Linked DNA regions of Homo sapiens: regions 1 and 2 are each linked to region 3. Evidence: fine-mapped expression QTL. A gene starts in region 3. Each other region holds a variant in brackets. All regions are shown on one strand. Distances are from middle to middle.

Region 1 (8,187 bases), 100 kb before region 3:
GAGTCAGCCTGATGAGAAGTCGGCTGTGCCTTTTGTTACCAAGAAAACAAAACTGTAGCATAACCCCACCTTGTTGTTAAAACAAAATGTTTACATTCTTCTGTTCTGCTTCGCTCAAGTCATTCCTGTGGGACAAGCCGACCTAACATACAGGTGTAGTCAGGGGCTAGGAGAGACCTAGGCAGGCCCTTGTCCATTCTCAGTCACTGAAGTGAGACCTAGGGACTCAGGAAGGACTCAGAGTTCCCTTAGTCATCATTCCCTCTGGGCATCCTGCTTTTGGCATAATTACTGATACGAGCACCTCGTGTCCCCTCCTGAATTATACCTACCCCCCCGCCTCCCCGCCCCCTGCAATTGCTTAGCACAGTATCTGGCCCATGGAAGTGACTTCATGGAAATTCAGCGGATGAATGACTGGACAATGAACAACGCACAGCAATGTGTGGTGTGACAGAAAAGGCTGCACCAGCAAAAATTGGAAGCTGATCTTTGGGTATTTCCTTGCCTTGGTCACTTTGCAATTTCCTGGGTGCTTGAAACAGGAAGTCAGTGACTCTAAGCCCCTGTGGGATCTGGCACCTCACATCAAGGTATCTGGAAAGTCCTTATTCTTCACTTCTCCATGCGATCCTACCCTACAGACCAGCCCTCCTTTTGGAATCTCTCCTGCTACACATTCTGTGACCCTGGGACTCTCTCTTATTTTATTTATTTATTTTTATATGCCCGTGTTTCCAAAGGAATAATAGGGCAGTTAAATATAGCTATGACTGTGCCTTTCCAGAGCCCAGAAAAGTCTGGAAAACTGGGAATATCCAAAGCTCAGGATGATATTGCGCACACAAAAAGTACTAGGCAGAGTAGTGTTTAGATAGAAACAGAGTAATGTTTAGATAGAAAGCAGACTCAGTCATATAAAATATATGCATATACAGCATGATCTGCATTTCTGTGATGCTTCTGAAGTACAGAAGCATTCAGCACTTCAGTAACTCTTATTGCAAGTTACCTCTTCAATCATTTTTCTTCAATCATTAAAATGCTTTAAAAAATTTTTTAGCTTATTGAGGTATGACTGACAAAAATTTTAATATATTTAAAGTGTACAACTTGTTTTGATATATGTATACATTGTGAAATGATTACCACAATCAAGCTAATAAACATGTCCATTATCTCACGTTACATTGTGTGAGAACACTTAAGATCTACTCTTAGCAAATACCAAGTATTTCGAGTATATCAAGTATGCAATATATTATTACTATACACTCACCATGCTGTACATTAGAGCTTCAGAACTTATTTATCTTATAACTGAAAGTTTGTACCCTTTGACCAATGTCCCCATTTCCACCATTCCTAGTGACCACTGTTCTACTCTGTTTTTATGAGTCTGGCTTTTTTTAGATTCCACATGTAAGTGAGATTATACAGTATTTGTCTTTCTGTGACTGGCTTATTTTACTTAGCATAATGTCCTGCTGGTTCATCCATGTTGTTGCAAATGGCAAGATTTCCTTATTTTTTTAAGGCTGAATACTATTTCATTGTGTAGTATACACCACATTTCTTTATCCATTCATTCATTGATGGACACTTACGTTGATTCCAAATTTTGGCTATTGTGAATAATGCTGCAATAAACATAGGAGTGTAGACAGCTCTTTGACATATTGATTTCATTTTCCCTGGGTATATGCCTAGAAGAGGGATTGCTGGATCATATGGTGGTTCTGGTTTTAATATTTTGAGGAAACTCCATATTGTTTTCTATGATGGCTATACCAATTTACATTCCCGCCAATAATGTATAACAGTTCCCTTTCTCCACATCCTTGCCAACACTTATCTTTTGGCTTTTTGGTACTAGCCATCCTAACAGGTATGAGGTGATGTTTTATTGTGGTTTTGATTTGCATTTCCCTGATGATTAGTGATGTAGAGCACATTTTTATATGCCTGTTGGCCATTTTTATGTCTTCTTTGGGAAAATATCTATTCAGATTATTTTCCCACTTTAAATCCAGTTATTTGTTTTTTTGCTATTGAATTGAATTTTTTATGTATTTTGGATAGTAACCCTTTATTATATATAAGGTTTACAAATTTTCTCCCATTCTATAGGTTCTTTTTTTCTTTATTTTACTATAAAGTTTAAAATCTTGTTTTAATTTTTGTGGGTACATAGTAGGTGTATATATTTATGAGGTGTGTGAGATGTTTTGATACAGGCAAATTGTGTCACAGAAAATCCCCTCAAGCATTTATCTTTTGTCTTATGATACAATTAAACTCTTAGTTATTTTAAAATGTACAATTAAATTATCGACTATAGTCACCCTGCTGTACTATCAAATAGTCGGTCTTATTCATTCTTTCTAACTATTTTTTGGGTACCCATTAACCATACCCATCCCCCCGCCTCCCCCTTACCCACCTCTATAGGTTCTTTTCATTTTGTTAATTTTTTTCCTTTGCTGTGCAGAATAAAATGCTTTTTCAAAGCAAGTTAAAGCTGCTCTCTACTTAGATTAAGAAATCAACTTAAAGTATTATATATATATATATATATATATATATTAAAAAAAAAAAGAAAACATCTGAAGTGGCTCCAGCAGAAGGAAAGGCAAGATGGGAATCAAAGTTTAATCTACATTCTTTCTGCTTCTCCTTTTCTACCAACACTGTGTTCAACTGCATAACAATAGTACCAATGAGCACGAGAAAGATAGTTTTTAGTTTAAAGACTATTTCAGTTTTAGTCAGACTACTTCAGACCTCAGACTCCAGACTTCAGACTCCAGACTTTAGACAACAGACTCCACATGCCACACAACAGACTTTCAGACTCCAGCTTCAGACTCCAGACTCCAGATCGCACACTTCAGACAACAGACTCTAGACAACACACTCCAGTCTCCACATTCCACACGACAGACTACAGACTCCACACTCCAGACAACAGACTCCACACTCCAGACAAGAGACTCCACAATCCAGACAAGAGACTCCACACTCCAGACAACAGGAGACTTTTAGACTCCAGATCAGACTTCGAACTTCAGATTCACTCCAGACTTCAGACTCCAGACCAGACTTCAGACTCCAGACCCAGATTTCAGATTTTAGACTTCAGACTCCAGACCAGATTTCATATTTCAGACTCCAGACCAGACTTCTGACTTCAGACTTCAGACTCCTGACCCTGGATTTCAGACTCCAGGCTTCAGAGTTTGGACTTTGGACTACTTCAGCTTTAGTCAGACAGACAACTTCAGTCACACCACTTTTCACCTCTGCCATCTAATCTCGTCTTTTGAACAACCCCCTAAAAAGGTAACATTCCCAAGAAACCCAGACCCAGAAACACTGAATGACATACTCAAGACTACCCAACTAGTAAGGGGGAGGCCACAGTTTCCCTTACCCTGGCAACATGCACATGGCAGGCCCTTCACTTAGCTGGTAGAAGGAACACAGGCTTGGGAAGGAGATGTCTGATGTTCACTCCCTGACGACACTCTTACTTGCTTCAATGATCTCTCTGAGCCTTGGGTGGCCCATCTGCTAAACAAGGATGAGTTATTTCCTGGGGATGCTAAGAGACTTCTGCCTCATGCCTGCAGTGCTGCTCATGTTGCCCCCTTGGAATTACTTGTTCAACTTCTTTCTTCCCCACTAGACTGTGAGCTTCTTCAGGTCAAAGACCAGGACTTTCTTGCCATTAACCCCAGCAACTAGCATCATGCCTGACCAAAGGGCATGCTGATGACAATAAACATTGATTGTCCGAAATCACATGCCTGGTCCCCAGTAGGCGCTTGCTGGTTACTGCTTTCTTCCCATCCTCCCTCTGCCACCCCTTCCTCTCTGAGTCTGGAGGGGATGGCCATGTACTAGCCAGGGGCAGTGTCCACAGGAAATTCAGGTCCTTTGCAGCAGTCAGTTTCATTTCCTATGATTAAAATTTCTGTGAAACATATTATGCAAGAGCAGAATTTTAATGTAGTTATTCCCTGGACGGTCTGGGCAAGACAGACCTACCCTGTACCAGTTCCTGGCACAGCTGGTGTTGGCCCAGTTACGCAAGTTTCTGAGGTTTAAAACAGAACAACAACCTTCCAGTGTTTCTTTCAATGCCAAAGCAAACTTTCTCAGCAGAGCGGTCCCTCATTCTTGGAAAAGAGAGGAATGTCCTTTTCTTTTCCCTGTCTCCTCTTCTCTGATAGAAAAGTGATAATTTATTATTGAGATTGCAGATTGGGCCTCGACCCCTCCTTTGACAAAGAGGCAAAACACTCCTAGAAATAAAGTTTTCATTAATGCATTCCTCTCTCCCCTTTCTCTGTCCCCTCCTCCCCTTTCCTGTTCTCTAGGTCTCTGCTTCTAAATGTATCCCCAACTTCTTTCCAAATACTTCCTCCTGCGCTGTCCCACCTGAACCTCTGCTACGTAATGCCCTCTGCTCCCTTTTTGCCATCGATAGTCTCATTTCCTGAGAGACACTGAGCTCATCTAGTTGGTTAGAGGAAAACATTATGATTGATCTAATTCATATTAAAGTGTGAATGACTGACAGCCCAATATATTTACATTACTTCATATAATTGCCTTTTTACCAAAGGCGCTTATTAATCCAAGTAAACACTTTCCACATAGAATTCCCCTAAAGAGTTTTGGGCTAGTTATTCCTCTGCGTGTCCCTCAGGGAATGACTATTTCTTCATAACTTCTGTCTTTCTTTTCAAGAGTAAAATGAAGGGAAGGTCAGTGATCTCATATTGGGTCTACACTGGGGATTATGCCCTCAGTGAGCTAGAGATGGGACAAGTTTAGGGACTGATTTTCTTAGAGGCAATCATTACCTGGTATTTTCCTGTCAATTGAATTATGATCTTAGAAACAAATGCTTTTAAACAAAAGGTCAGCTAGGTATGGTGGCTCATGCCTGTAATCCCAGCACTTTGGGAGGCCAAGGCAGGCAGATCACTTAAGGTCAGGAGTTCAAGACCAGCTGGCCAACATGGTGAAACTCCGTCTTTAC[T/TAA]AAAAAAAAAAAAAAAAAAAAAAGTACAAAAATTAGCCTGGCATGGTTGTGATGGTTGTGCACACCTGTAATCTCAGCTACTTGGGAGGGAGGAGACTCGCCTGAACCTGGGAGGTGGAGGTTGCAGTGAGCCAAGATTGCACCACTGCACTCCAGCCTGGGTGAAAGAGCAAGACTCTGTCTCAAAAAAAAAAAAAAAAGAAAGAAAATTAAAAAAATAAAAGGTGGAGGAAAATTTTCATATTGTTTTTCTCTTATAATTTTTATTCTTTGCCAATACAGCTTTGAAACTCTGTAGTTTCCTTAGTAACTCTGCAGTGTCTAAAAGTTCCTCAGTCAACTGACGTATAACTCCTCTTTCATGTCATTCACCCCATAATTATGTACTTTTGTCAACCTATCATTATAATTAGTATTCATATGCCTAATGTTTTTGCATATCTGTTGTATAGACAGGCAGCTTTGTTTCTCCACTCGATTCTTCTTTTTTGATTTTTTTTAAACAAAAGTTTACTCTTACATGTACAGCAGGCTGTAAGACAACAGTTCATTCTAACTATAGGTGGCAAAAGATGTTATGGCAGGAAATGCAGAGGTTTAAATAGCAATGGAATCAAGGGTCATCATTGCCTCAGTCACAAGGAACAGCTTTTTTTTTTCCTCAGGTTTCTTATTTATTTATTTTCAACTCTTATTATAGATTCAGGGGGCACATGAGCAGGTTTGTTACCTGGATATATTGTGTGGTGTTGAGGTTTGTGTTACAAATAATCTCATCACTCAGGTACTGAACATACTACTCAATATTTCGTTTTTCAACCCTTAACCTCCTTCCTCCCTGCTCTAATATCCCCAGTTTCTATCATTGCCATCTTTATGGCCATGAGCACAAAGTTTAGCTCCCACTTATAAGTGAGAACACATGGTATTTGGTTTTCAGTCTATGCACTAATTTGCTTACGATAATACTTTTTGCCAGATTTCTTAATTCCACTTGTGGCCAGGAGTCCCTTCCCTGTGTCCTTTGCTTTTAGCCCCTCAAGTTTCTTCTGCTCCTCTTTTTGCTTCTGCTTGGAATCCTGTCTTCCTCCTCCATCTCTTTGGCTTGTTTCTTGGTCTCTTCTTGCCACCTTGCTGCTCTTTCCCCAGACCCTATCACCAGAATTCATTTTTTATAAAACAAATATACTTATTCATTTGGCTCTACTTACCAAGGAACTCATATCTAGCACTTACAAGCATTAGGTACGGGCAGGCGGCACCGACAGCTGGGGCCTGGGTCGGGGACACGCGGAGGTCAGGCTGGTGAAGGCGGCAGGAAGCTGGAGCACGATCCCAGGGGGAACAATCCTGGACCTTGACTCAACAGCCACTTTGAGGAGTGACCAGCCTGCGTTTCAACCAAGACCAAAACTGCTTTTGCTGCGCCATGGAGACAGGTGTGCGCATCTACAACGTGGAGCCCTTGATGGAGAAGGGGCATCTGGACCACAAGCAGGTGGCAGCATAGGCTTGGTGGAGATGCTGCACCGCTGCAACCTTCTGGCCTTGGTGGGCGGTGGTAGTAGCCCCAAGTTCTCAGAGATCTCAGTGCTGATCTGGGACGATGCCCGGGAGGGCAAGGACTCCAAGGAGAGGCTGGTGCTGGAGTTCATCTTCACCAAGCCAGTGCTTTCTCTGTGCATGCTCCATGGCAAGATCGTGACCGTGCTGAAGAACCGCATCTATGTGTACTCCTTCCCAGACAATCCTCGAAAGCTGTTTGAGTTTGATACCCGGGTCAACCCCAACAGGCTCTGTGACCTCTGCCCCAGCCTGGACAAGCAACTGTTAGTGTTCCCGGGACACAAGTGTGGGAGTCTGCAACTTGTGGACCTGGCGAGCACAAAGCCTGGCACCATGTCTGCTCCATTCACCATCAATGCACATCAGAGTGACATAACCTGTGTGTCTCTAAACCAGCCAGGCACTGTAGTGGCCTCAGCCTCCCAGAATGGTACCCTTATTCGCCTCTTTGACACACAATTCAAGGAGAAACTGGTGGAGCTGCACCGAGGCACTGACCCTGCCACCCTCTACTGCATTAACTTCAGCCACGACTCCTCCTTCCTCTGCGCTTCCAGCGATAAGGGCACCATCCATATCTTTGCTCTCAAGGATACCCACCTTAACCGCTGCTCCGCGCTGGCTCCGTGGACAAGGTGGGGCCTATGATTGGGCAGTACGTGGACTCTCAGTGGAGCCTGGCGAGGTTCACTGTGCCTGCTGAGTCAGCTTGCATCTGCTCCTTCGGTCGCAATACTTCCAAGAAATTCAACTCTGTCATTGCCATCTGTGTAGATGGGACCTTCCACAAATATGTCTTCACTCCTGATGGAAGCTGCAACAGAGAGGCTTTCGATGTGTACTTTGACATCTGTGATGATGATGACTTTTAAGGACCCTGGGAGCTGTGCTAGAGACCTGCAGTGGCAGACTGCAGAGCTGAGCCTTGGCAGTGGGGCATGCTTGGAAGCCACTAGCCAGCAAGCATTAATGCGGCTGGTGCCCACTTTCCACTCAGCAGAGCTATGTCTAAATAAAGAGCTCACTTCCCCCCAGCACTTCTTGATGACTGTGTGCCCCAAGGGCCAGGCCAGAGACCCAGGAAGGCAGAGACCCCTTGGGATCCCTAACCTGGAGGAAATTGCCAGGGACCCAGAGGAAGTGCCCTAATCCAACCTGGGGATTTTTTAAAAGCTTCCTAGGAAGAGATGATCTCCGATGTGATGAATATGAATAAAAGGCCCTTAATGGCAAAACAAACAAACAAACAAACAAACAAACAAACATCAGGTACTGCTGGTAATTTACATGTGCCATCTCACCAAATTTTCAACCCTATGAAGTCCATTTTACAGAGATAATAACTTGCTCAAAATCATGCAGTTAGCAAGATGGCTCAGAATCTCTATTCATAACCTCTATACATACTGCCTTTGTTATGTTTCATGTTATCAGAAATGTTTAAAAATCACTTTGGAATGTTATTTATCACAACAAACAAAAGTTACATCATCCTAAGCTTCTAAAAGCCAATCTGAACAGTTTGACCAAATGAAAACTTAAGGTAGACTAAGACCCCATTGTACCCAACC
Region 2 (8,187 bases), 61 kb after region 3:
GACTATTTTGTAGTATGAGATGTCTAAAGGCATGTTTTCTGCTACAAAGCAATCCATAAAAAATTTCAACAAGGAATTCCATCTACCTGTTATAGACACAGGATGTCCCTCTTCCACTGATGTGGCTTTGAAAGAAATAAACAGCCTGCTGTCATTTTGTGTTACCATCCTCAGCAGGCAGCAAGAATGCAGGAAAAAAACCTGCTTACAGCCAAGGGTCAGGATTAGGATGTAAACTCCTGGGAGTGTGTGTGTGTTTTATCCTGGTATCTCTCATGGTGACTAATTCCTTGCTTGTGCATTTCAAGAGCTCAAAATATTTTTGCTCTTTGCAATGGTCTGAATGTATTCTCCCAAAATTCATATGTTGAGACTTAATTGCCAATGTGGTAGTAATGCAATAAATCAGATTATATCTTTGTAAGCTTTAAGAGATAATTAAGTTATGAGGGTAGAGCCTTCATGGAAGGAATTAAGGCTCTTACAAATGGGCTTAAGGGAGTGGGTTCATTACCTTCTATCCCTTCCTCCACGTGAGGACATGGCATTTACTCCCTCTGGAGCATGCAGCAACAACATACCATCTTGGAAGCAGACCACAGTGCAATCAAATTGGAACACAAGATTAAGAAACTCACTCAAAACCACACACCTACATGGAAATTGAACAACCTGCTCCTGAACGACTTCTGGGTAAATAATGAAATTAAGGTAGAAATCAAGAAGTTCTTTGAAACCAGTGAGGACAAAGAGACAATGTACCAGAATCTTTGGGATGCAGTTAAAGCAGTGTTGAGGGAAATTTATAGCACCGAGTACCCACATCAAAAAGTTAGAAAGATCTCAAATCAACACCATAACATCACAACTAAAAGAACTAGAGAACCAAGAGCAAACAAACCCCAAAGCTAGCAGAAGACAAAAAAAAAAACATCAAGATCAGAGCAGAACTGAAGGAGATAGAGATATGAAAAACCCTTAAAAAATCAATGAATCCAGGAGCTTTTTTTGAAAAAATTAATAAAATAGACCACTAGCTAGACTAATAGAGAAGAAAAGAGAGAAGAACCAGATAGACAAAATAAAAAATGGTTAAGGGTATATCACCACTTAGCCCACAGAAATACAAACAGCCATCAGAGAATACTATAAACATCTTTATGCAAATAAACTAGAAAATATAGAAGAAATGGACAAATTCCTGGGCACATACACCCTCCCAAGACTAAATCAGGAAGAAGCTGAATCCCTGAATAGATCAATAACAAGTTCTGAAATTGAGGCAGTAATAAATAGTCTACCAACCAAAAAAAGCCTGGGGCCAGACAGATTTACAGCTGAATTCTACCAGAGGTACAAAGAGGAGCTGGTACCATTTCTTCTGAAACTGTTCCAAACAATTGAAAAGGAGGGATTTCTCCATAACTCATTTTATGAGGCCAGCATCATCCTGATACCAAAAGCTGGCAGAGATACAACAAAAAAAGAAAACTTGTAGGTCAATATCCTTAATAAACATCAATGCAAAAATTCTCAATAAAATACTGGCAAACCGAATCCAGCAGAACATCAAAAAGCTTATCCACCACGATCAAGTTGGCTTCATCAATGGGATGCAAGGCTGGTTCAACATACACAAAACAATACATGCAATTCATCACATAAATAGAACTAAAGACAAAAACCACATGATTATCTCAATAGATTCAGAAAAGGCCTTCGATAAAATTCACCATCCCTTCATATTAAAAACTCTCAATAAACTAGGTATTGAAAGAACATACCTCAAAATAATAGGCATTTATGACAAGCCCACAGCCAATATCATACAGAATGGGCAAAAGCTGGAAATATTCCCCTTGAAAACCAGCACAAAACAAGGATGCCCTCTCTCATCACTCCTATTCAACATAGTATTGGAAGTTCTGGCCAGGACAGTCAGGCAAGAGAAAGAAATAAAAGCTATTCAAATAGGAAGAGGGGAAGTCAACCTGCCTCTGTTTGCAGATGGCATGATCCTATATCAAGAAAACCCCATCATCTCAGGCCAAAGCCTTCTTAAGCTGATAAGCAAATTCAGGAAAGTCTGAGGATACAAAATCAATGTTCAAAAATCACAAGCATTCCTATATACCAGCAACAGACAAGCAGAGAGCCAAATCATGAATGAACTCCCATTCACAATTGCTACAGAGAGAATAAAATACCTAGGAATACAGCTATCAAGGGAAGTAAATGACCTTTTCAAGGAGAACCACAAGCCACTGCTTAAGGAAATCTGAGAGGAAACAAAAAAACGGAAAAATATTCCATGCTCCTGGATAGGAAGAATCAAAATGGCCATACTGCCCAAAGTAATTTATAGATTCAATGCTATTCCCATTAAACTACCATTGACATTTTTCACAGAATTAGAAAAAACTACTTTAAAATTAACATGGAACCAAAAAAGAGCCCATATAGCCAAGACAATCTTAAGCAAAAAGAACAAAGCTGGAGGCACCACACTACCTGACTTCAAACTATACTCCAAGGCTACAGTAACCAAAACAGCATGGTACTGGTACAAAAACAGACACAAAGACCAATAGAACAGAATAGAGAACTCAGAAATAAGACCACACTTGTACAACAATCTGATCTTCAAAAACCTGACAAAAACAAGCAATGGGGAAAGGATTCCCTATTTAATAAATGGTGTTGGGAGAACTGGCTAGCCATATGCAGAAAATTGAAACCGGACTCTTTCCTTACACCTTATATAAAAATTAACTCAAGATGGATTAAAGACTTAAATGTAAAACCTGAAACCACAGAAACCCTAGAAGAAAATCTAGGCAACACCATTCAGGACATAGGCATGGGCAAAGATTTCATGACGAAAACACCAAAAGCAAAAATTGAGAAATGGGACCTAATTAAACTAAAGAGCTTCTGCACAGCAAAATAAACTATCATCAGAGTGAACAGACCATCTGATAATAAAATATCAAAGAAAAACCCTATTTTTTTTTCCTCCAAGACTTGAGTAAATAGGAGAAAATTTTTGCAATCTATCCATCTGACAAAGGTCTAATATCCAGAATCTACAAGGAACTTAAACAAATTTACACACAAAAAAACCAAACAACTCCAGTAAAAAGTGGGCAAAAGACATGAATAGACACTTTTTGAAAGAAGACATTTACGTGGCCAAAAAACATATGAAAAAAAGCTCAACATCACGGATAATTAGAGAAATGCAAATCACAACAACAAGACACCATCTCATGCCAGTTAAAAAGTCAAGAAACAACAGATGTTGGCAAGGCTGTGGAGAAATAGGAAAACTTTTACACTGTTGGTGGGAATGTAAATTAGTTCAATCATTGTGGAAGACAGTGTGACGATTCCTCAAAGACCAAGAACCAGAAATACCATTTGACCCAGCAATCCCATTACTATGTACCCAAAAGAATATAAATCATTCTATTACAGAGATACATGCATGCATATGTTCATTGCAGCAATATTCGCAATAGCAAGACATGAAATCAACCCAAATGCCCATCAATGATAGACTGGATAAAGAAAATGTGGTACATATACACCACAGAATACTATGCAGCCATAAAAACGAATGAGATCAAGTTTTTTGCAGGGACATGGTTGGAGCTGGAAGCCTTTATCTTCAGCAAACTAATGCAGGAACAGAAAACCAAACGCCACATGTTCTCACTTGTAAGTGGGAGCTGAACAATGAGAACACATAGGGAGGGGAACAACACACAGTGGGGCCTGTTGTGGGGTTGGGGGAGGGAGAGCATCAGGAAAAATAGCTAATGCATGCTGGCCTTAATAGTTAGCTGATGGGTTGATAGGTGCAGTAAACCACCATGGCACATGTTTACCTGTGCAACAAACCTGCACATCCTGCACAAGTACCCTGGAACTAAAAAAAAAAAAAAAAAAAAATTGATGAATCCCAGTGTTGGTTAACATTAGTATTGGCCCACACTGAAATTCATATTGACCTCAGAGTGGAAGGCTAT[CT/C]TTTTTTTTTTTTTTTTTTTGAGACGGAGTCTTGCTTTTTTTGTCGTTGCCCAGGCTGGAGTGCAGTGGCACCATCTCGGCTCACTGCAACCTCTGCCTCCTGCGTTCAAGTGATTCTCCTGCCTCAGCCTCCCAAGTAGCTGGGATTACAGGCATGAGCTACCACACCCAGCTAATTTTTGTAGTTTTAGTAGAGACGGGGTTTCGCCATGTTGGCCACACTGGTCTTGAACTCCTGACCTCAGGTGATCCGCCCACCTCAGCCTCCCAAAGTGCTGGGATTACAGGGGTGAGCCGCCACGCCTGGCGGAAGTTTATCTTTTGTGGTTGCTTTGACTTTGTGGGAGGATGGATATTGGAACCTCCCATGGGGAATACTGCTTGCTTGACTTATTTTTCTTCTCCATGATGTTAGGAGAAAAATCTTTCTGACCAGAAGGCTAACTCCTCAGCCAAAGTGGCAGTCCGTCTGCCGTATCACTGGCTTTACAGGGGAAAGAATCCCAAGAGGTCAGTTGATCCAGGATCCAGTCCTAGGCTGGGAAGACATTTCTGCTGTTTTACAGGTGAGGTACCTGAGGCCCCAAGAAGGCCAAGCGACTTAGCCAAATCACTGAGAATGATGCTGATGGTGGAGCGGAGATGCAGTGGGTGTAGAGGAAGACAGGGGTTGTAGTAGTGAGGGAATGAGAGTAGATGCTAGAATTCCTGGTTCTTCTCTGCATTGCTAATCTATTGGAGATTGGCATCATGCCTTCATCTTTGAATCCCTGGCACCTTCACAGTGTGTGGCAATTAATGTGCCCAATTAATGTTGTTGAATAAATGAACCATAATGGCCCCCTCTGGTCAAAATCCTCTATGATAAATTCTCGTAACATTACGTATCGTTCTTTCACAGTACTTGTTACAGTAACAACTTTCCATTTTTTTGGAGTGTGATTATTAAATCAATGTATTTCCCCTTCACTAGACAGACCATAATAAGCTCTATAAAGCTTTTAGTAATCACTGAATCATGCAGTGCTTGGCACTTAATAGGTGCTTGGGACATATTTGTAGAATGAATAAATGATCTTGGGCAAGAATGGCCTTGGGAGGTTCAGTTTGGGCTTAATAATGGCAGCAGCAGCAAAAACTAGTATTAGTTTAAGGTGTTTTCATAGGTATTATTTTCATTTAATAATTTAAAAACTCCTACTAAAAAGGTATTATTTCTATCATATAGATGAAAAAAACTGAGGAAGATCAGAGAGGTTAAACATCTTAAAGTCTGATACTCTATGATCACTGTATTACAAATGTGGGCCCTGGGTTATTTGTTGTCCATACAGCCAGACTTGCAGAGATCAGTAAATGTTTTATGGCACATGAAGTGAATGAGAGAATATGTGATTCTTTTGTATTTTTTGTGTATTGGTTTAGAGCAAAGGCATTTTTACATATGAGAAGAGCTCACTGGAATTGATAATAAGGGCTCACACCCCCTCACTGGCCCTGTAGTAACACAAACACTATCTTCATTTGTATTCCAGGGGCCAGCCAGAAACGGTTGATGTAAGATGTCTTATAGGTCCAGCTGATGCTAACAACCAATGAGAGAAAAATTTTCATGCTTTGAAGACTAAAATACTTTCTCTCTATGAATTTATAATATAAATGATTGACAACCTGAATAAGATAAGGGAGGCCTAGGTCCATGGTTCTTAAGCTTTTGTGGCACATAGGATCATTTGATGGGACACAGATTAATACAGACCCCTTAATCTGGTCATTTCTTACTACTAGAAACATGGGGATAACAATGTCACTCCCACTAATGTGGAAATAGTGGAAAGGATGGATTTGCATGTATGAGTGCCTTATGGGTAAATTATAAATATATTCCTGAAATTGACTAGAGACGTGAGCACCTTGTGAACTTCAATGCTATAGGAGACCAGCAGAAGCTCCTTTGTGGAACATTGGAATTCCCAGGCCGCAGCCAAATGCCACTGGCTAATCACCTTAGAGTTTTAATTCAGGAATGGTGGGTTGAATCTTGAAAATACATGAATGTAGAAAAGGTGAAAAGGGGATGTCAAATGTATACTAATGACCTTTAGAAGATGCATTAGAAATGGGATTGGATTCTTATGAAGTGGACAATTATTACTACCTGGTAATATGCTTTATTTCACCATGCCAGTTCAACGAAGGCATTCAACAGTTACTTGTTGAATGAAATAGGACCTCCATTCTATCATATGAATGCCTAGCTAGAGAAAAGCCTTCCCAGACCAAGAAACTTACCTCTATTTCATGTAATATTTGCTGAGGTGAATGGAAATCTATCCTGTGGTGACACCAAAAGAGTCTATATTCTGTCATTTCATGTATTACATAAAAAGGATGGCATCAGAGACATTTCAGATGACATGTGGAATTCCTGTAAAACATTCTTGATGAGGCTGACAAAGACAATTCCTTAATGATGTTTGTTTCATTTTTGATATAAATGGAAAGACTGAAGACAAATGTAAACGAAGGAAAGTGTTTCTAATAATAACAATAATATGAATGTATGAGGTATCAATCTTTGCGTTACTGATCATTGATTTATTTCTTGGTGAGATCTTTATCACAGGATGACCTTGTTGCCAAAAATTACCAAGTATTGGGAAAATGTATAGCTACTGATAGGAGCATGTGCAGATTTGCTTTTTGTCAGTGTGTGTTTATGTTACATGTAGATATTGTCACTTTATTTAGCAAGGCGTTCTTTCTTCTTGAGTCAAGAATATAATGTAAACTCAAGTGAATTTCTCTTTAGTGAGAAGAGCATTTTATTTTGTCCTTTCTGGCCCTTATATTCATACTTTTGACCACCCACAGGCGAATCCAGGAGAACCAGAGATAACTTCCATAGACTGGAAAACCAGGATGAAATTGTGTGTATTTCAGTTTAAAAGATTCCTTTCAGGGGAATTATCACTGTGATGTTGGAAGATATTCTTTCATTCACAAGGCATTTGCAAGATCTATTATGTATGAAATTACTCACATGTAAATATTTTGTAGATGTAAAGCAAATTTGCTCCCTGCAAAATGGACCCAGTGGTGGGAACCAGTTTGAGGAGATGAGGCTGTATTTCCCTTCTCTAAGCATCACCAACAGAGCTGCTTAATCTGAGTCTGGAAGAGATCCAGTGGGATTTAGTTTTATGAGTTTTAATGTAAAGGTGTTGTATTTCATGAGATGAAATCATAACACAGTGGATTGCAAGAATTTTGAGAGATTATTTTTTCAGAGTCTTGGCAAGCACCATCCTCTAGAGAATTTTGTGTCTAAAAAAGAAATATAGATATTCTTTAATAGGATTCACATGATAGCTAATCATTAATTCCTTCTAGATGGTCAGGGTTTGACTGGAGAGGCTGATTTGGAACATCTGGAGCAGGTCTGACCTCTCTAGTTGGCCTTTATTGAATTTGTGACTTCCACAGCATCCTAAAACTTCAAAGTACATGGGCAATGCATTTTTTTTGGGTCCTCTACTCCTAAGCCATGATTACAGTTCTTTTTATTTATATATAGATTATACTTCACCTTTAGTCTTCATGCACAGTTTGATTCTCTATGAATTTTGACAATCCAAATGAATATTTGGCCAAGACAAGAAAGGTTATCAAGCTGTATCTCAGGTTTCTTTCCTCTCCCGTTCTTGTTATGTTTTCAGCTGAGAAGAAGTTCTCTGTCTCTGTTTTAGAGAAAGCTGAGCCATTTCCTTGACTTAAGTTTGACCTTTTTTTTGCTTCATTCTGGAACACGTATAACTGTTCTTAGGCTAAACATCTCTCTACTTTTGTGACTGTCTCATCTCCAATTTCCCTGTAATGCAACATGTTGGAATAGGTTTCTCATGAATGGCAGGGGAGAAACAAGACGCTCTGGGAGAAATCTGGCACTTCTTCTGATTTTGATGTGTATGGAAGGTAGTTTGTGTTCTATGTAGCTGAGAGCCTTCTTGAAACATGGCTCAGGCAAGAAAGTTTCGGAAGTGCAATTAGTTCAGCATGGGAGTCTAGCAAAACGAATGTATGCCCCAATGTATGTAGCACTTTTCCCAGGGAGATTTGTTCCTACCTTATTTTAGAAATAATAGATGAACTCTT
Region 3 (8,187 bases):
GCAGAAAAGCCTGGGGCATCATCCTTGCCCCTAACCAACCCTGTACCTCCAACCCACTACTCTCCTGTTGACCCTACCTATAAATGCCTCACAAACATGCCCCCTTCTCTCCACCCCTATGGCTTCTATGCCATTCATTTTGTCATTCATTCAGCAAATATGGAGTGGTGCCTCCCATGTGCCAGCCACTGGGTTAAGAGCTGGCATTCAAGGGTTAGAAAGACAAACAAGGTGTCTGTTCTCATGAATAGGACCTTGTGTTCTAGAGGAAATGATGCACAATAAACAAGCAAACAAAACAACTGCCTAATGAAGTAAATTATATGAAGAAAATAAAATGTGTGATAAAGAATTACCAGCAGAGGGCAAGGGCTGTCACTCTTTAGATAGGGTGGCTAGGGGAAGATGAGATGGAGGCCAGCATGCAGGGTGTCCCCCTCCTCTGAGGCCCTTGCCTTCGCTCTCTTCCCTCTTCAAACAGTAAGAGTGTTCCCATTAAAGGTAGACTGATCCTATTGTCTTCCTGCCTGAAATCCAACATGGCTCACAAGGCCTTGTATCCCATTTCAGCCTCCCCTCTCTCCACTGCCCCTGCACACCCTCTGCTCCAGCCAAGCAGAGCTTTCCTGTCCCTGAATGCTCTCCCTCCACTCCCAGCCTCCATGCTGGGTTGCCTCATTTCTGCTCACCCTTGGATCCCACTTACTCCAGGACACCCTTTCGGTGAGGCCCCTACCAGGATATATACTGACCTTGAACATTGTTACCAGACTGCATTGTTGATGACTTATTTACTTACCTGAATCTGTAGGTGGCCAGCGCTGGCCTCATCCCCCCACTGAATCCTCATGTCTGGTGCATGGCACACTCAATGTGTTTGGAGACTGCCACCCCGATTGGCTTTCATTATCTCTCACCTGAACTGCTGCCTCCAAACTGATTTTGTCACTTTCAACTCTTCCCTCACAAAACCCACCTGTTAGAAAAATCTTTCTAAACCAAGTAGCAAAGCCAGAACAATGAACTCAGAAACTAGTGATGACCCTGGACCACATGTGAGTGCCAGGTAGGAATGTTAGGTTTAGAGGGCTGTATTCATTGGTAAGGAATTCATGTCACAAGGCAAGGCTGCATGCCTGTGGGTGGAGAGGAGGGGCTGTGTATGGCCTGCCCCCAGGCAGAGAGCAGTTTTGGGGAAGTGGTGGGTCCTCTCAGCTCTCAGGAGAAATCCGAGCCTGGAAAGCAAGCCTTAGACAAGCAGAAGAGGGAACTCCTAAACCCATGGTCTCTGCTCTCACACTCCAAATTTTAGGAGTTTCAAACATACCTAACCAGTTGCAGGCTCAAAAGACCCCAGGGGTTGTAGCTGGGGAGGTGGAGGATGGGGAATAGGGAGATGGTGTTTGTCCAGTAAGGTATGCTGGAGTTAGGGTCTTACATCATAAGATTGTACGTTACTGTTCATTTATTCATTCAATAAATATTTATTGAGGCCCTGCCGTTTGCTGAGACTGTTCTAGGTCCTGGAAATACAGGAGCGAGCAAGGCAGACCACATGGCTTTTCTGCTGGAGCTTTCATGCTGAAGGAGGTTCTTAGACAATCAAATACACACATAGACATACTTCAGGTAGTGATAAGGGTGATGAAGGAAAATAAAATAGGGTGAGGTTCAAACCAAAGGGAAGCTATCAGATAATAGGCTGGTCAGTAACTATCTCTGTTTTCACTTTCTTATCCCTAGCTCTAGTAAAGTCAAGAAACCAGCACTTCTTGAACTTTGATGTGCAAATGAATCACCCTGGGATCTGGTTAAAATGCGGATTTCAATTCAGTGGGTCTGGCGTGGGAACTGAGACTGCATTTTTAACAGGCTCCCAGGTAATGCCTTGGCTGCTGGTTCCTGGACCACACTGTCTTGCCATATGGGATTAAGGGAAAAGCTGTGAGTCCCTCCTAGGGCAGCCTCAACAGAGAGGCCATACCTCCTGAGGGCAGCAGACTAGGCAGTGATGCCAGCCTTAAGGAAGAGCAAAGATCAGCAGCAAATCCACCAGTACTAGATCCTCTGACACTCCTGGCATGCATTCATCAATTCAGAACCTCCCTTTCGATAATCTGGGTTTGAAACCAGCAAGAAAGTCATGGAGTTTCATTTTAAGTTTCCCCATTTTGTGGTACACAAGCCCCTCCACAGCCTAGCCCACCCTTATTTTTTGCTATAAGCATTCCTGACCCCTAGGTTTCTGGCAGTCAGAGTGGACAGTCCCCTCTCTCTGCCTTGTCCCATGGCCATCCATCCCAATATTAAAAAAAAAAAAATCTCCAAGCCATTTGGTACTGTTGTTCCCTCCATCTAGAATTCTCTGGCCCATGAGGTCAGATCCTGTCCATTCCCCAACACCCAGCTCGAATGCCACGCCCTCACGGGTTGGAGGAGAAGGGGGTTAGTCAGGAGCAAGCCCTTCTCAGAAATCCTACAGTTCTTTGCCTGAACCTATTTTGGGACATTAATCTCTTCCTACCCGCTCTGTGAGTGATTTTTGTTGTTGTTTAAGAGTTATCTTTGCCCTTAAGAGTTATTTTTGTCCTCGTTTTACGGATGGGATTTGGGTTCCTCCAGGTAAGACCTACCCTCCTCCACCCCCAAATCCTCCTGGTACCTGGATGTAGCCTAAGAAGAATTGTCCTATGAACGAAGAATAAATTAAGATTGGGTTTGCAATTGACGCCAGCAGAAGCAGAAATGGGCTAGGTTGAGCACCAGGCAAGACAAGCTGACGATCAGGGTACACATCTTGAATCAGAAACCCTGGGCACAGACCAGCAGTCTGCGTGGTAACAGGCCCTCCGAGTGATTCTGATGACACTCGAGTTTGAGAACCAGGGCGGTCTAGCCAAAAGCCTGCAGTACACCCCTTCCCCTCTCTCGCAGCTTACGACCTTGACCCTGGGCTCTGGGGGCTTCCGCCGAGGAGGGAGGAGGGCACAGGCGGTCACAAAGGAGGGCGGGAGTGGAAGGGGTGAGCCTGGAAGAGAAAGTGCGAGGATGCGAGAAGAGGGATGGAGCGAAGGAAGAGGATCAGAAGGAGGAAAGGAAGGTAGCGGGGAGGGCACAGAAGTGGGGAGGGAGGGAGTGGAGGAGGGACTGGCACCCCGCACGGTGGCATCTTCCAGAAGGTCATGCGTCCGTCCCCACGTCTTTCCAGGGCCGGTTCTCCCCGGTGGGGCCCGGGGTCTTGGAGACCAGTCTGTGCAGCCTGCCCGGCACCAGCGTGAGCCCCGGGACCCCGGCCTGGCGTCCCCCACGCCCGCGCCCCCGCGCCAGTACCTGCTCCTGCTGCGGGGGGGCCTCCAGCACCGGCGCTGCCTTCCGCGCCGCCGTCCCCGCGGCCATGCCTGAGCCACTGTGCCTTCTCCAGGGCACAGCGCCTGCCGGGGAGGGTCCCGCAGAGTCCGCAGAAGGAGGCGCCGCGGGGCCTCGGGAGCCGAGGGTGAGAGCCGGATCTGCGGCGGCGGCGGAGCGGCGGCCCTGCCCGGGTTGTGCGGGGCGGGAGATGGGAGCCTCCCGGCACGCCCCGCCTCCGCCCCCTGCACGCTGGCCAGCGTCCTCCCCAGCAGCGGCCTCGAGGTCCCGGTCGCCAGCACCCCGGTTCCTTCAGAACCTCAGGCCTCCCATTCAGCCAGCCATTGTCGCCGATAAAGCGTCTTGAGCCCTACCGGGTGCGTGTGGCGGGAACCCCGGTTTTGTTACCGGGCGGCAGGACTGGAGGAGGGGTCAGAGGTGGGTAGGGAGAGAGAGGGGAGTAGAGGAGTGAGAAATGGCGGTGGGGGGGCGAGGGGTGCTGGGGAGGAAGAGAAGAGAGAGAGAGAGTTTCCTCTCCCTCAGAGGTGTTTATTAGGAGGCAGGAGTTCGGGTGGCTGTGCAGATACAGACTTTCCTCAGTTATCTGTGCTTCCTCCAAAGATGATGAAGGAGAGAAACTCCAATCTAGGGAGAGCGCAGACCATCTTGGCCCCTATGCTGCTCCAGGCCATGCAGGGCCCCTGCGACGCAAGCATCTTGCCTTTGCCCCTCTACCTCCAGGGTCTCCCCTCCCGCCTTTACAACTTAGGCCTAAGCCTGGCTTCAAGGTTGAGAACAAGCTGGAACGTTTAGGCAAGCCTTTAGAAATACCTGGGTGTTGATTTGGGGAAACAGAAAAGAGGAGCACAGAATTAGATGATGTGTCCTACGAAATACAGCTTACCCCTTTCCAGTTTGTGATGGCTCGTATTTGTCAACACCTACAAAGGAGGTGAACAGACCAAGATGGACATTTCTCTGCCATTGTGGAACGTAGAGCCTAACAGGGGATAGAGAAAAATAAGCATCTAAGTACAATTTATCACGGATGGTGCCTTGGTTTTCCAGCCTTAACTGGGCATCAGAATCCTATGGAGGAATGCTGAGTTTGTTAAAACTCAGAGTGCTGGCCAAGCACAGTGGCTGATGCCTTTAATCCCAGCACTTTGGGAGGACAGGGCGGGCGGATTGCTTGAACCTAGGAGTTTGAGACCAGCCTAGGCAACATGGTGAAGCCCCATCTCTATAAAATATACAAAAGTGAGCTGGGCGTGGTACACCTGTAGCCCCAGCTACTCAGGAGGTTGAGGCTGGAGGATCGCCGGAGCCCGGGAGGTTCAGGCTGCAGTAAGCCGTGATGGAACCACTGCACTTCTGCCTGGACAACAGAGCGAGACTCTATCAAAAAACAAAACAAAAATCTTCAGATTGCTGGAGTTGAGCCCTAGAGTTTTTAATATAGTAGGTCTAGGGTGGAGCCTGAGCATTTGTCTTTTGAACAAGTTTTCAGGTGCCGCTGGGGCTGTTACCTACATCTGAAGACTACCTTGTAGCATGATCAGAGTGTGTTGGAAAGAGTGTCTGAGATGGAGAGAACAGTGGATGCAAGGGCCGGAATGCTGGAGAAGGCATAATGAATTGGAGAAATAAAAATCATGGTTAACATTGATAGAATGCTTACCGTGTGCCAGGTGCCGTCCTGAGCACTCTACCTGTGTTAGCTCATTCAGTCTTCCTGACAATCCTGTGAGGTGGGCATTGTGACCGTCCGTGTTTTACACGGGAGAACACTGAAGCACAGAGAGGTCCAGAAGTTTGTTCAAGTTTTGAAGCTAATAGGTGGGGCAGTGGGAATTTGAACCCAGACAAAACTGACTTCATGGTCTGGGTTCTTAATCTCTCAAGGAAGTAGCTGCGAAGGTCAGCAAGGGCCAGATCCACATAAATCATATTAAACAGTTTGGACTGTAGCCTCAGGAGAATGAGAAGCCATTACCGAGTTTTAAGCAAGAAAATGACATTACCAGACTTGCCTTTTGGCTTCAAGAGTGGGGAAGAGGGCTATGACTATGACTCAAGACAGAGAGACCAGCCAGAAAGCTATTGCTGTAGTTTCAGCTCTAAGGATGACAGTGGCCTTGGTGGTGAGAGTGTGTGCGGGGACAGAGTGGAGGGGAGATGGAGAGATGTGTTTGGGGATGGGAGATCTAGGTAATAGAATCTACTGTACTTGACTCATCTCCAAGGATGGTGCCCAGGCATGTGGCTTGGGCAGTCTAGCATTTGGGCAGACAGTGCTGCCATTGCTGAGAATGGGAACATTGAAAGAGCAGCAGATTTGGGGACACAAAAATAGTGGGTTCATTTGGACATGTTACTTCTCTACCTATCTTGTGGCCTGCCTTCATGTGGCAAGAGCCATTTTTTCTCTCCAGCCCAGGATATCCTCACATTCATCTAGATTCTCCCAAGGCAGCAAAATAATAAAATGAAAATAGTCCATATGGAGATAGATGTTCCCTTTCTATAAAATTCTGACCTGTTATTGTTATATAAGTCTCAGGTCCCAGATTTGAAACTCTCTCTCCTGATTGATTGGCACCAAAAAGACCCACATACTTCACTGGAGACCCATGTATGCACAAAGGTATCATCTTCCTTCTGGCTTCAGCTCAGCAATCATATCAGAATAAAACTCAAAAAGTGCATTTCTTCCCCATCAGTAACGATGGCTTTGCTCTAATCTATCCTCCTCTTATACCTGGTTTCTTCTATGATCAAATTGCAGATATTCAGAATGAATATTTAATTTCCCAGTCAGTTAGGCAATGCTCTCTGGAGTAGTTCACTGAAACAAGGTTAATTAATTTGAAATTTTGTTTTCCAAATCAAATGGTTGGCGGCTGACTCTGTCTTCTGTCCTGGAATAGATGAACTGTATTCTGCTGCTTAACACTAATCTCTTCAGCATTTTATCTGTAGTCTGTGCATCCTTCTTCATGTCCCGCAATGTAGAGTCCTGAGGTGGTTGTAATGATGTAATGGAAGAAATTAGCTAATGTGGTAAATGTGTTTGAGAAACAAGGTGGGGTCAAGAATCACTAGTCAGTTGATTGTCATATTTGGTGCAGGAATCAACAGACTCAAGGAACAGAATGGGCACATACATTTATGGAAAACTAGTTTCATGAGAGGAGTAGCAAATCAGCAGAAAAAAATAGATTATTTAGTAACTGGTTTATCCATAAGAAAAAAAAATTATACCATACCAGCACAAAACTGGTGGTTAGAAAGCAATAGTTTATCTAAAAGAATGTTTTTATGGTCTCAAGATAAGAAAAGATATATTAAACAAGACTCACAAAGAACAAATGGCAAAGAAAAAAGTTTGCCTGTATTAAAATGAAAAATTTCTGTACAACAGAAACTTGCGGTTAAAAAAGAGGCAAGCCATGAACCAGAATATATTTGTATATAACTCATTGACAAAGGACTAGTACTCAGAATAAGTAGAACTGCTAGAGATTAATTTTTAAAAAGCGTAGATCAATAGAAATGGGCAAGGGATATAAATCAATTTGTATAAATAAAATTATGAGACTTTAAAAATAATTTTAAGGGAATTAATGATTGAATTTATTAATATGTGGATTAATTCAGAGTACACACTTCACAGGAATGCTTGTATATGTTCAGTTACTTGTTCCGCAGTGGCTCCCTCCAGCCTTCCTACCCTAGACCACTCAGCAATTTTCCCCATTTCTCCTCCACTTTCTTGGGGCCACCAAACTTCCTTGGGCCAGTGGTGCCACCTAATGGTTAGATCTTGCAGAATGCCATTGTATTGCTTTACAAATGATCTTTTTCAAGTAACTTCCATTTTCAATTTACTCCTTTCCTCATTTCTCATCTTTTCATATTTCATATACCATATACAGATATCTCATGTCTTTTTCATATTCCCAGATAAAATGTGTATTTGATCCCTAGCATTAAGCTAGAATAAATGATTCAGAATGTCTCCAGCCAGGTGCAGTGCTGGTCACATGTGGAATAGGATGGCAGAGGGAGACTCCATGCAACTGGCAGAACTTCTCCTCTGTGAAGGGGATAGCAAGAGCAGGTTCATCTACATGAGGGCAGGGCAGGGAGGTAAAAATCCATCCAGGCTGTGTGAATATCCAAGAGCTTGTCTGATCTCAGAAATCAGTATGAAAAAGACACCAAACTTTCTGGACTCCAGTGGTTCTTGGGGCCAGGGTTGGCTTTGTTATAAATAGGAATAATCACCCAAGAGGGGAGGAACGCTGAAGCCAGGTCCCATCTTGGCTGATGAAATAGCTGCATAGGAATGACTAGGCTAACTTCTTTTCAGTCGTCCTAACCCTCCATTCCACCCCCTCCCCAAACTCCTTTCTGGGTGCTAGGTTGGTCTTCACATGCAGACACTAGTTCCTTAGAATTGACAGAAATCCTGCAAGTTGGTCTGATTCCCAACTGTCGGGGTTCCTGACTTAACAGTCCCAGTTTTCCTTGGTCCCTCTGCCTAACTGGATAGACATTTTCATCTTCCTTTAATTAAATCTGTTTTTGCCTAAGCACTAGTACTTTTTTATCTCATCCTTTAATTATTAGTATTGTAACACTATTGATTTCCACTCTGTTGGGCTAAAATGTATGGTGTTTAGCTATATTATGGTTACATGGCTTTTTGTGAGCTGGCTTGTAGCCCTAATTGCCATTTATAAAATTGCTTCTATGGGAAAGTGCATTCTGCCTTTCAAACCACAGCCTTCCAAACACACGAACACAGTTCATTTGTGAGCTGGGAACCATCAGTAT

What was found. PIP is the estimated chance that this variant, and not a neighbour inherited with it, causes the effect.
Region 1: its variant is fine-mapped to the expression of RNF175 in whole blood (INTERVAL, PIP above 0.99).
Region 2: its variant is fine-mapped to the expression of RNF175 in whole blood (INTERVAL, PIP above 0.99).

What each region holds. Positions count from the first base shown.
Region 1 is chr4:153,652,165-153,660,351 of GRCh38, forward strand. It overlaps the pseudogene LOC100419170 and the pseudogene WDR45P1. Among named protein-coding and RNA genes, the nearest start is that of TLR2, 28 kb to the right of the region's middle. The variant T/TAA (reference allele first, on the strand shown) is at 5,051.
Region 2 is chr4:153,817,446-153,825,632 of GRCh38, forward strand. No RefSeq gene overlaps it. Among named protein-coding and RNA genes, the nearest start is that of SFRP2, 32 kb to the left of the region's middle. RefSeq lists an enhancer at 5,446-5,615. The variant CT/C (reference allele first, on the strand shown) is at 4,032.
Region 3 is chr4:153,756,467-153,764,653 of GRCh38, forward strand. It overlaps RNF175 (ring finger protein 175), which reads right to left and starts at 3,558. Exons shown (of 9, transcript NM_173662.4): 1 at 3,331-3,558. The coding sequence starts at 3,396.